2 separate regions of the Homo sapiens genome follow, and region 1 is linked to region 2. The links come from fine-mapping of genetic effects on gene expression. A gene starts in region 2. The other region holds a variant in brackets. All regions are shown on one strand. Distances are between the middles of the regions.

Region 1 (4,420 bases), 31 kb after region 2:
AGAAATTTCAAGTATTATATCTCCAAAAACTTGCTCTCATACAAAGTTGGAGAAATAAATTGAAATGTGAATCCATGAAATTCTGGATGGTATGGCAGAAGGAGAATGTATTGCCTTTGAAGAAAAGGAGAACTCCACCCAACAACTCTCTCTGTCTCTCTCTCTCTCTCTCTCTGTGTCTCTCTCTCTGTCTCTCTCTCTCTGTTTTAGTGTCAAGTGATCCTTTAAGCGTGTTCTGGGATGTTATGGGCTCAGAAGCATGGGCAGTCCTAGAGTTCTTACCTCCTCTCACTCCATGTGATCTCCCTGGGCAATCTTGCCTCTTCCCAGGCTTTGAATTGGCATAAAATAACATGGTATATTCCCAAATCTCCCCTAATTGGACAGCTGCTGACTGAAATCCGTACCCTGGACACGGAATATCTACATGTGTATCCTAGTACTTTACACCTTCCTCTACCAGAATATAACCTCCACAAAGGCACAGGCTTTTCCGTTTTATTTGCTGTGTTAGCATCAATGCCTAAAAGAATGTTTGGCACAGAATATGCAGTCAATAGATATCCCGCTGTTAGGATCTCTGAGAAAGAGAAAGCAAACTCTCTGAAGACGTAGTGCAAAGTTGTGGAAGTAAACGAAATCCCTCCTCCAACATAAGTTGAATACATTTGAGGCATAACTGTATGTTTTCTAATGTGCAGCAATATTAAAAATCTATTTCACAAACGCTGCTATTTTGTAATCCTTTTAACTCTTATTAAAAAATACTTTAGAGAAATTTATATTTTTATTCATTTTTTCATTCCTTTATGTAAGCAACATTTAGCCTAAATTTGAATGTCAGTCTTTCTGCGTGCACAAAGGAAGTACTCAAAGCTAAGGCAACATTGGTTCCTTATCCTCCTGCATCTTACATTTTTGACATTTCAATATAGAATCCTTCTCTGAAAAAAAAGTAAACTGAGAAAAATCTCATCCTATATTTTTCAACAAAAAAGATTAGTGATTATTAACATTAAAACAAATCACATTTTTACTCTAATTGTTATTGAAAACTCCCATAGAAAGGGTTAGAGAATTTGTAAATAAATGTAGTAGTATTGTATTAGAAAGAAGGTAGTATACTTTAATTACCATCTTTAATTTTTGAATCTTTGAATAGCAATCTTTAATTATGACTTAATCAATGGTGAATTTATCATAATACTGCAAGCCAAAGTCATATACACTTTCATTGTATATGAAAAGCAAGGAAATAAATAAGATTGCAGGGCAAGTTTAACTATCCTAAGAATACAAAATGACTTAAAATAATTTAGAAATGTATATTATATATACATATATAAATATATAATATATAAAAATAAAATATATAAATATATATATTATATAATATATATTATATTGAATAATGTATTATATATAATATTGTATATTATATTGAATAGTGTATTATATATTATATTGAATAATGTATTATATATAATATTATATATTATATTGAATAATGTATTATATATAATATTATATATTATATTGCATAACATATAATATTATATATTATACCGAGTAATATATTATATATATTATGTATTATACTGAGTAATATATTATGTATAATATATTATATTATATGGAGTAATATATAATATCATATAATATATGTTATATAAATAAATGGGAATATATGTAAATATTATATATTGTATTAAACATATATAATATATATTATAGTATATTGAATAATATATAATATATAATATAATATATTTATAAATATGATATGTAAATATATTTATATATATTTATATACATATTTATATTTATATATTTAAAACCCAAAACAATGCTTTCAAATTAACGGGAATATATATGCACACACACACAAACACACACAAATATCTATACGTACATATATATAAAATACCCACATATACATATATATGTGTATATATGTATTATATATTATTTAATAATAGATTATATAATACATATATGTGCATGTGTTTTATATATAATACATGTGTATGTGTAT[GTGTATA/A]TTATATATATGTATTTTTTTCCTTCTGCAAATAGATCAGTGAAAAACCTTGCAATATATTAAAAGAAAAAGTAACAAAGTATCAAAACTCCCAATTTTTTTCAGGCTGGCAACTACCTTAAGAGCAGTTTTGTGTATTAATGTGAAGCATCAGTATTCATGACACATTTAAGAGCAGTCGTATTTGATGGTGGTAAGAACATACATCCATGCATCACTTAGCGACATTAACATGTTCTAAGAAATGTGTCATTAGGTAATTTCATTATTGTGTGGACATCATAGAGGGTACTCACACAAACCTAGATGGCATAGTTTACTACATACCTAGGTTATATGGGATAGCCCATTGCTCCTAGGCTACAAACCTATGCAACATATTACTATACTGAGTATTGTAGGCAATTGTAACACAATGGTATTTGTGCTATCTAAACATATCTGAACATAGAAACAGTAGTTATTATGTTATGGGAGCACTGTTCTATTGTGGTCTGCCTTTGACTGAAGCATCATTATGCAGCACGTGGCTATGTGTGTAAACTCTAATGAATATTTTCTTAACTGTCCCTGGTTAAAACATGTCACATTTATATTAATAAAGGCATGTTTTTATGACCTCATAATGTACATATGGCAAATTTGTTAAATTTGTTCAATGTTAAAGAGTTTGAAACTTAAAAAGAATGGAATTAACTATGCAGTAAGTTAATGATTAATTTTAGTATTTCTAAGTACTATCAATATGATCTAATTCACTCAGAAAGACCATGATGCTCTGATAAATAACGACGGATTAGCAATACTACATGATATTGCCCTGGAATATTATCACTTATAAAGCATGCTAATGAATAATCTCTGAACCACCACCAGAGTTACAAAAGTGGCAGGGGCTGCCATTAAAATGAGTTATTAACAAATAAACTAAAGTGATAAATCAAATATAAAACTTGTACAAATATTCTTAGTAAAAATGGATCAATTATTCTTGGACATCAAAGGACATAGCTACCATTTTATTATTTTTCCAAGCATATTATTATTTTATTATTATTAAAATATAGTATCAATAAAATAATAATGTAATAGATAATCTTACATATATTAAGACAATCAATACATATTGAATGAATGGATAACATTTGATATTAAGTAATAGCTATTTTTCTTAAGAGAGCATCATATATTTTAAAGCACTTATGTTAATAATATGAAGTAAATTGAATGCCATTCCCTGTTATTAAAGCTATTAAAATCTTAGAAAGCAGGTATATTACATTTTTCTCTATTTGAACTTTCTTCCAACAGGTGAATGGGGCAGTCAGTAGCAGTTCAAGTTAATGAAACTCTCTGCTGATCTTTCTGAATGCTCCAGAATGTGGAGCAAATTAGTTGATTGCATAATTTCCCTAGCTGTAAAATGATGATAAATCAAGAAATTCATGGATCCGTTAAAATTCAACCAGAAAGCATTTATTCAGTGACCACTTTGCACTGCCATTAGGGACAAAGTACTATGATGAATATGGTGAGGATTCCAGTCCTCAAGGAACTCACAGTCTGAGGAGTAGCAATAAATGAAATTGATAAAGTATAGTGCAGAGTGGTGAATTCTGCGTAAATATGAAGGAAGGGCTCTGGGGAAAGACATGGAGAACTTTTAACTCTGCCCAGGGAAGGGTGAGCAGAAGGAGGGATAGGCATCACTGAACAGGTGACACTGGATCTGAGTCTTGAAGGTGAACACCAATTTCCCAGGAAAGAGGGCTCTGTGTAGTCCAGGCAGGATGAGCAGCACATGCAAGTATACTGTTTAGATAATTCCCAGAAAATCATAAAATACTGGAGCAGTGGAACATATGATTCACAGAAGGGAACAGCTTCAGATGAGCTCCCATAGAAACTCTGCTGTTTTATGATAAGTTTATAGAACAAAGCGCCTATAGGCACCATGGAATCAAGAGTTTTTAAGGTAGTGAGTAACAGAAGTCCATTTTTTTAAAATTATAGATTACTCTGGAATCAGTGCAGAGGAGAAATTAATGTGAGACAAAACTGATGGTAGAAAGATCATGAAGGAGACTATTAAAGAGCATATTAGAGTCATTCAGTTGAGATGAGAAGGCAACCAGTGGCAGGAGGCGTGATGGGGAGTCAACGACAGAACACAGTTTTTTTGTTTGTTTGTTTTTGTTTTTGTCTTTGTTTGTTTTGAGATGGAGTCTTGCTCTGTTGCCCATCATTCAGTTGAGATGAGAAGGCAACAATGGCAGGAGGCAGTGACAGGGAGTCAATGACAGAACACAGTTTTTTTTGTTTGTTTTTTGTTCTTATTTTTTGTTTGTTTGTTTGTTTTGAGATGGAGTCTTGCTCTGT
Region 2 (4,420 bases):
TGCATGAGATACATACTTCTTATTATGATTTAGAACCTTCCAAAACATTAATGTTGCTCAATAGAATTGCCATACCTAAGATTTAATACCATGCCTATCATTTTCTTGTTTCTCATTCTCTCCATCCTGAAGTACCGGGATTCTCATATAAGTAACTTTGCCTGAGCTTGGGTAAAAGTTGACTCCTAATGTAAGGTGAACTGGAGAAGAACATTTCTTTCACCTCTTTCCCTGATCTTATCTTTTTTATTCAGCATTCCCTCTAAAGAGAATTTCACTCACAGAATTAGAGAGAGACTCTGTACTCTTTTATCGTATCACTTTTAGAAACTAAAACCCATTGGATTTTTTGAGAATTAGGAATCATTATACTGTGCAGAGTTTGGGCTTTTTGACACATTTCCATTCCTTCAATTGAGCACTCCTTTTATTGGATCACTGGAATAAAATCATGATTATTAAACATGTCACAATATACAATTCTCATTTTATAATAATTTATGAAGACCTTGCTTAAATATATGTTCTCAAATCAATTTAAGTTGAGCACATATTAAGCAAAAATAAATTTAAAAATGCATCTTGCCTCTCAACAAAATATTTCCTTGCCTGAGTTGTTCAAACTCCTGCAGATAAAGCATATTTAAATAAAGATAAGGGGCTATCACTTGCTCTTATTTTCATTATATTCAGGAGATGACCACTTTGATTATAAGTAAGAAGACTTAAAAATACTCATGATTTCCAACATGAATTACAGCACTTAAGACTTTGTCTTCTCGTTAAATCATGCTTATTCGTGCATTTTATATAAAAACTCTGGAGAATAACTTAACAGGAAATCTAAAATAAGAAAAAGAAACACTGAAATTCCCCAAATCTCTATAGATAAAACCCTTTAAGGCTTAGGATTAAGCATTTGAAAATATCAGGAGCATTTAAAATATGTTCATGCTTAGCTTTCTGTTCACTTGCTATCTGCAACATGAAAAGTCTGGCGTTGAGTGGCACGAGAGCATTACTGTTTCATTTTGATAATCCAAGTTTAATTTTAATACATCTTTTAATTTTACTTTAATTTAGGTTTTTTTGGGGTTTCAGAGGCAGAGCACTACTTTGTTTCTGACTAAATGACAAAAATCATTAACTGCCAGTGACTATATGAACATGATGTGAACAATATATGCAAAGAAACTAGGGCAAAGTTTTTTGTTTTAGAAAAACATATACTTATATTCTATATATTCTGAATGATCCTCATATAAACAACACAACATACAATATCTCAAAATGTTACTACAACACGGCTCATTACTTTGCAGGTTGCAAACGCAGCGTGTAAATCCTTTCCTCTCAACCATAGTAAGTAAAGACACAGATACAACACGGTTTGCAAGTCTTAGCTCTGCTCTGTAAACTTACTGCTATCATAGGTCTTCTGCATAAGTATTTTTAGTGCCCAGTTCCTAGTTCAGTGCTTAAAAATCCTGCCGATCCCTGGGTTGGAACAAAGCTTTCGGAAGCAATTAACTGCTTTTGCCATCCCAGGTGCCAAACACACACACAATGTCCTTTTATTTGTGGAAATACACACAGATCTATTCTGCATGTGCTCAGAGCTCAACACAAATATCACCCCTTTCCCACAGGCAGCAGGAAGGATGTGGTTTGAAGGACATAGTTGCTTCATCTGAATGTTCAGTTGTTCAAAAGATCTCTTGTTGCTACGCTGAGTTGCGGCTCTACTACCTACGTTTAAGAAGATATAACCAGGCCGTGCCCAAAATCCCACTTTTATCTATTTAAACAGGCATTCAAGTAGATCGTGCAATTCTTTGCCCCTTACCTTCAGTGGACACATGCTGAAAATGTGTTCATAATCAAAAGACATTCCCCAGAGCTGATGACCCAGTAATTCCTTACGTATACAGGTCAGCTGCAACAATACCGTACTAAAATCGCCAGATGAAATGGTCAGAATTACCCGGTGGCTTGATAAAATCAGCTTACTTTGAGTCTAATCCAAGGATAAATATACAGAAAGCTCCAAGCAGTGGAAACTGTAATCACCTTAGAACTGCCCCCTGAAACTGTAATACTGCCAGGAAAACAAATATTTGCTGAATTATAGGGTGCTATATTGGTTTTACCTGAATGCAATTAAGGGCTAAATAACTACAAGCTACTGTTTAAAGTGGACAGGTATAACCAAGAGCAGGGGACTAATTCTGCCAACACCACTAACACCAGTCCCCAAAAACCCTAACGATACACTCAGAACAAGCAAACCAGTAGATCTGATTACCAATTTCACATATCCTGCATTCTTGGAGCTCACCCATTTCATCATTTCCGGACACTCAGACTCTAACTAGGAACACCTAACTCATAGCCCTGTATTTTGCTAAGTTTTTCCTCTACTCTTGAGTCCTCCTTTAATCTATAGAGTGTTATTCTACACTGGACCTCTCTCTTATTTTTTGGAGTCTAGCATCTTGCATCTTCCTGGAGCCCCAACTAAACTCATAACTTCTAAGCTTCTAAGAAATATGTAAGTTTTTCAACTCTGTACATTAAGTCTTTTTGTGACCTTAAACTTACCTTAGAAAAAGATGTACTGTTAGTTACCAACTGCTTCTTCAGCCTTGCGTATAATGCCTGTTCCTCTTTATGACTCCCCTTCAAACTTACTAGCTCATGAGGATCTGTAATTTAAGAAAAGAGCTTTGGCAACAGGGTAGTTAAATTGCTACTAGTGGTTACTTCTGAATGACTTCAAGTTGATTCTTTCCTTGTGTTTTCTTCAATCACTTCTTATTTTTACTAATCAGTGTCACTATGTGTGAGCTATGACACTCCTTAGAACTATGCAAGTAGGCTTCAAAAAAAAAAGAATGGAAATTTGATGAAAATGTTTTACTGCTAACACTCAGCTAGAAATACCACCTCTGAAAAAGTGTACAAAACTCCATGTACCAGGTGGAATATTACTCCTGACCCAGAGTATTATATAAACATCTGTATTTTCTTCCCCAATTAGAAACAAATAGCTCTTGATGAAATGTCTGTGCCCTGGTCCTTCAGAAGTCAGTATCTGACTCTAAGATGCCAGGAAAATTTCACCTTGTGTCATGTTTCACGCTGAGGAGTTTGTATAGCGCTAGTGTAAACCTTGGTCTCTAAGACACATTCCATGGTGAATTTATTTCAAATTCCAAACTGAGTTTATTCCATTTCACTCACTTAAAATTCCAGTTGTGATTGGAAAATATACACTTCATTTACCTTCTGCGCAGTGTTCAATGAACCGCTTGTCATGTTTCACCCTAGTAGGTTGCATTTCAATCCTGAGTGTGTCTGTGTAGCAGCTGATTAAAGCTTTGCTATTATTTGTAAGGGATGTTATAACATGCACTGTCATCTTTCTTGGCATTTTTTGAAACGGTAACATGAGGATTCTGGCAAAATAATATGGTAGTTGCTACTCTTTCCTTACACCTATACCATTTACTTGTCAGTAAACAAAATCATGTTTTCAATGAAGTAGACAAATAGAAAACTCAGCTTCCCTATCCTGTTGTATCTTGTGCCACTCTCTATAAACTGACATGGCATAAAATGACATAGCTTGATAAACTGCTGGAGTCAAACACAGATTACTGCCATTTAGCTAGAGCAGGACACGTCACTTGAGGACACGGCCCCAAGGAATGTCAGTTCTAGAGGAGGAAGGATAGAACCGAAATGAGGGATCTGGTTCTTTGTTGTGTGTGGCTGAATTTCCCGGACATTGTTTAAGGCAGAAATGACAGGTAGCATAAAAGAGCAAACCTTACCTTAAGAAAGCAGATTATATAAGCACCCCCCTTGAATCCCAAATTCCTGCCACACTAGGACTTTACCACATAGGTTATTGCTCAGATCTGATGAAATGTTAACTCCAATCCGTAACCAACTGATAACAACCAAAAACCACATTAGTCATTATTTACTAAGATAACAACGATAAAAATCATGTGTGTGTGTGTGTGTGCGTGTGTGTCTTTCCTTGAGTTCTGTATCAGGATTTTATAATGCTGAGAGAGTTGTCTATTAAGAAACATGTTTCAACTTTATTCCAAAGAAATGGTCCCCACTACTCTCTGTGAAACTGTTAATGTCCAGCATGGCTCTTGTTATCAACAGGATCTATTCTATGCTTTCCTGGTACCAGCATAATTAAGTCAACAAAACTGGTTGCTTTCAAAGCCAATAACTATTCAAGGCTACTTCCTCTGCAAGGGCACAGTTTTAATACACCCATAAGCCTTATTCAGGATCTCAATCTTTTGCAGTTGAAAAATGAATCCAAGAACACCGTTAGAGAAGCTCACAATTCAACTCAGATCTTACATTTGAACTTTTTCTTTTTTGGAAAATG

Alleles and levels. Positions count from the first base shown, and alleles are read on the strand shown. Sizes are in standard deviations (SD) of each study's normalised expression.
For the expression in activated naive CD4 T cells of the gene that starts at base 2,382 in region 2, allele A in region 1 goes with a lower level than allele GTGTATA (large effect, 1.8 SD a copy in Schmiedel 2018).

The links.
Region 1: its variant is fine-mapped to the expression of CHRM3-AS2 in activated naive CD4 T cells (Schmiedel 2018, PIP 0.93).

The regions. Positions count from the first base shown.
Region 1 is chr1:239,685,802-239,690,221 of GRCh38, reverse strand. All of the region lies in intron 5 of CHRM3 (cholinergic receptor muscarinic 3), which reads right to left. Among named protein-coding and RNA genes, the nearest start is that of CHRM3-AS2, 31 kb to the left of the region's middle. The variant GTGTATA/A (reference allele first, on the strand shown) is at 2,036.
Region 2 is chr1:239,717,081-239,721,500 of GRCh38, reverse strand. CHRM3-AS2 (CHRM3 antisense RNA 2) reads left to right here and starts at 2,382. Exons shown (of 3, transcript NR_103776.1): 1 at 2,382-2,551. The region is part of intron 5 of CHRM3 (cholinergic receptor muscarinic 3); the gene reads right to left.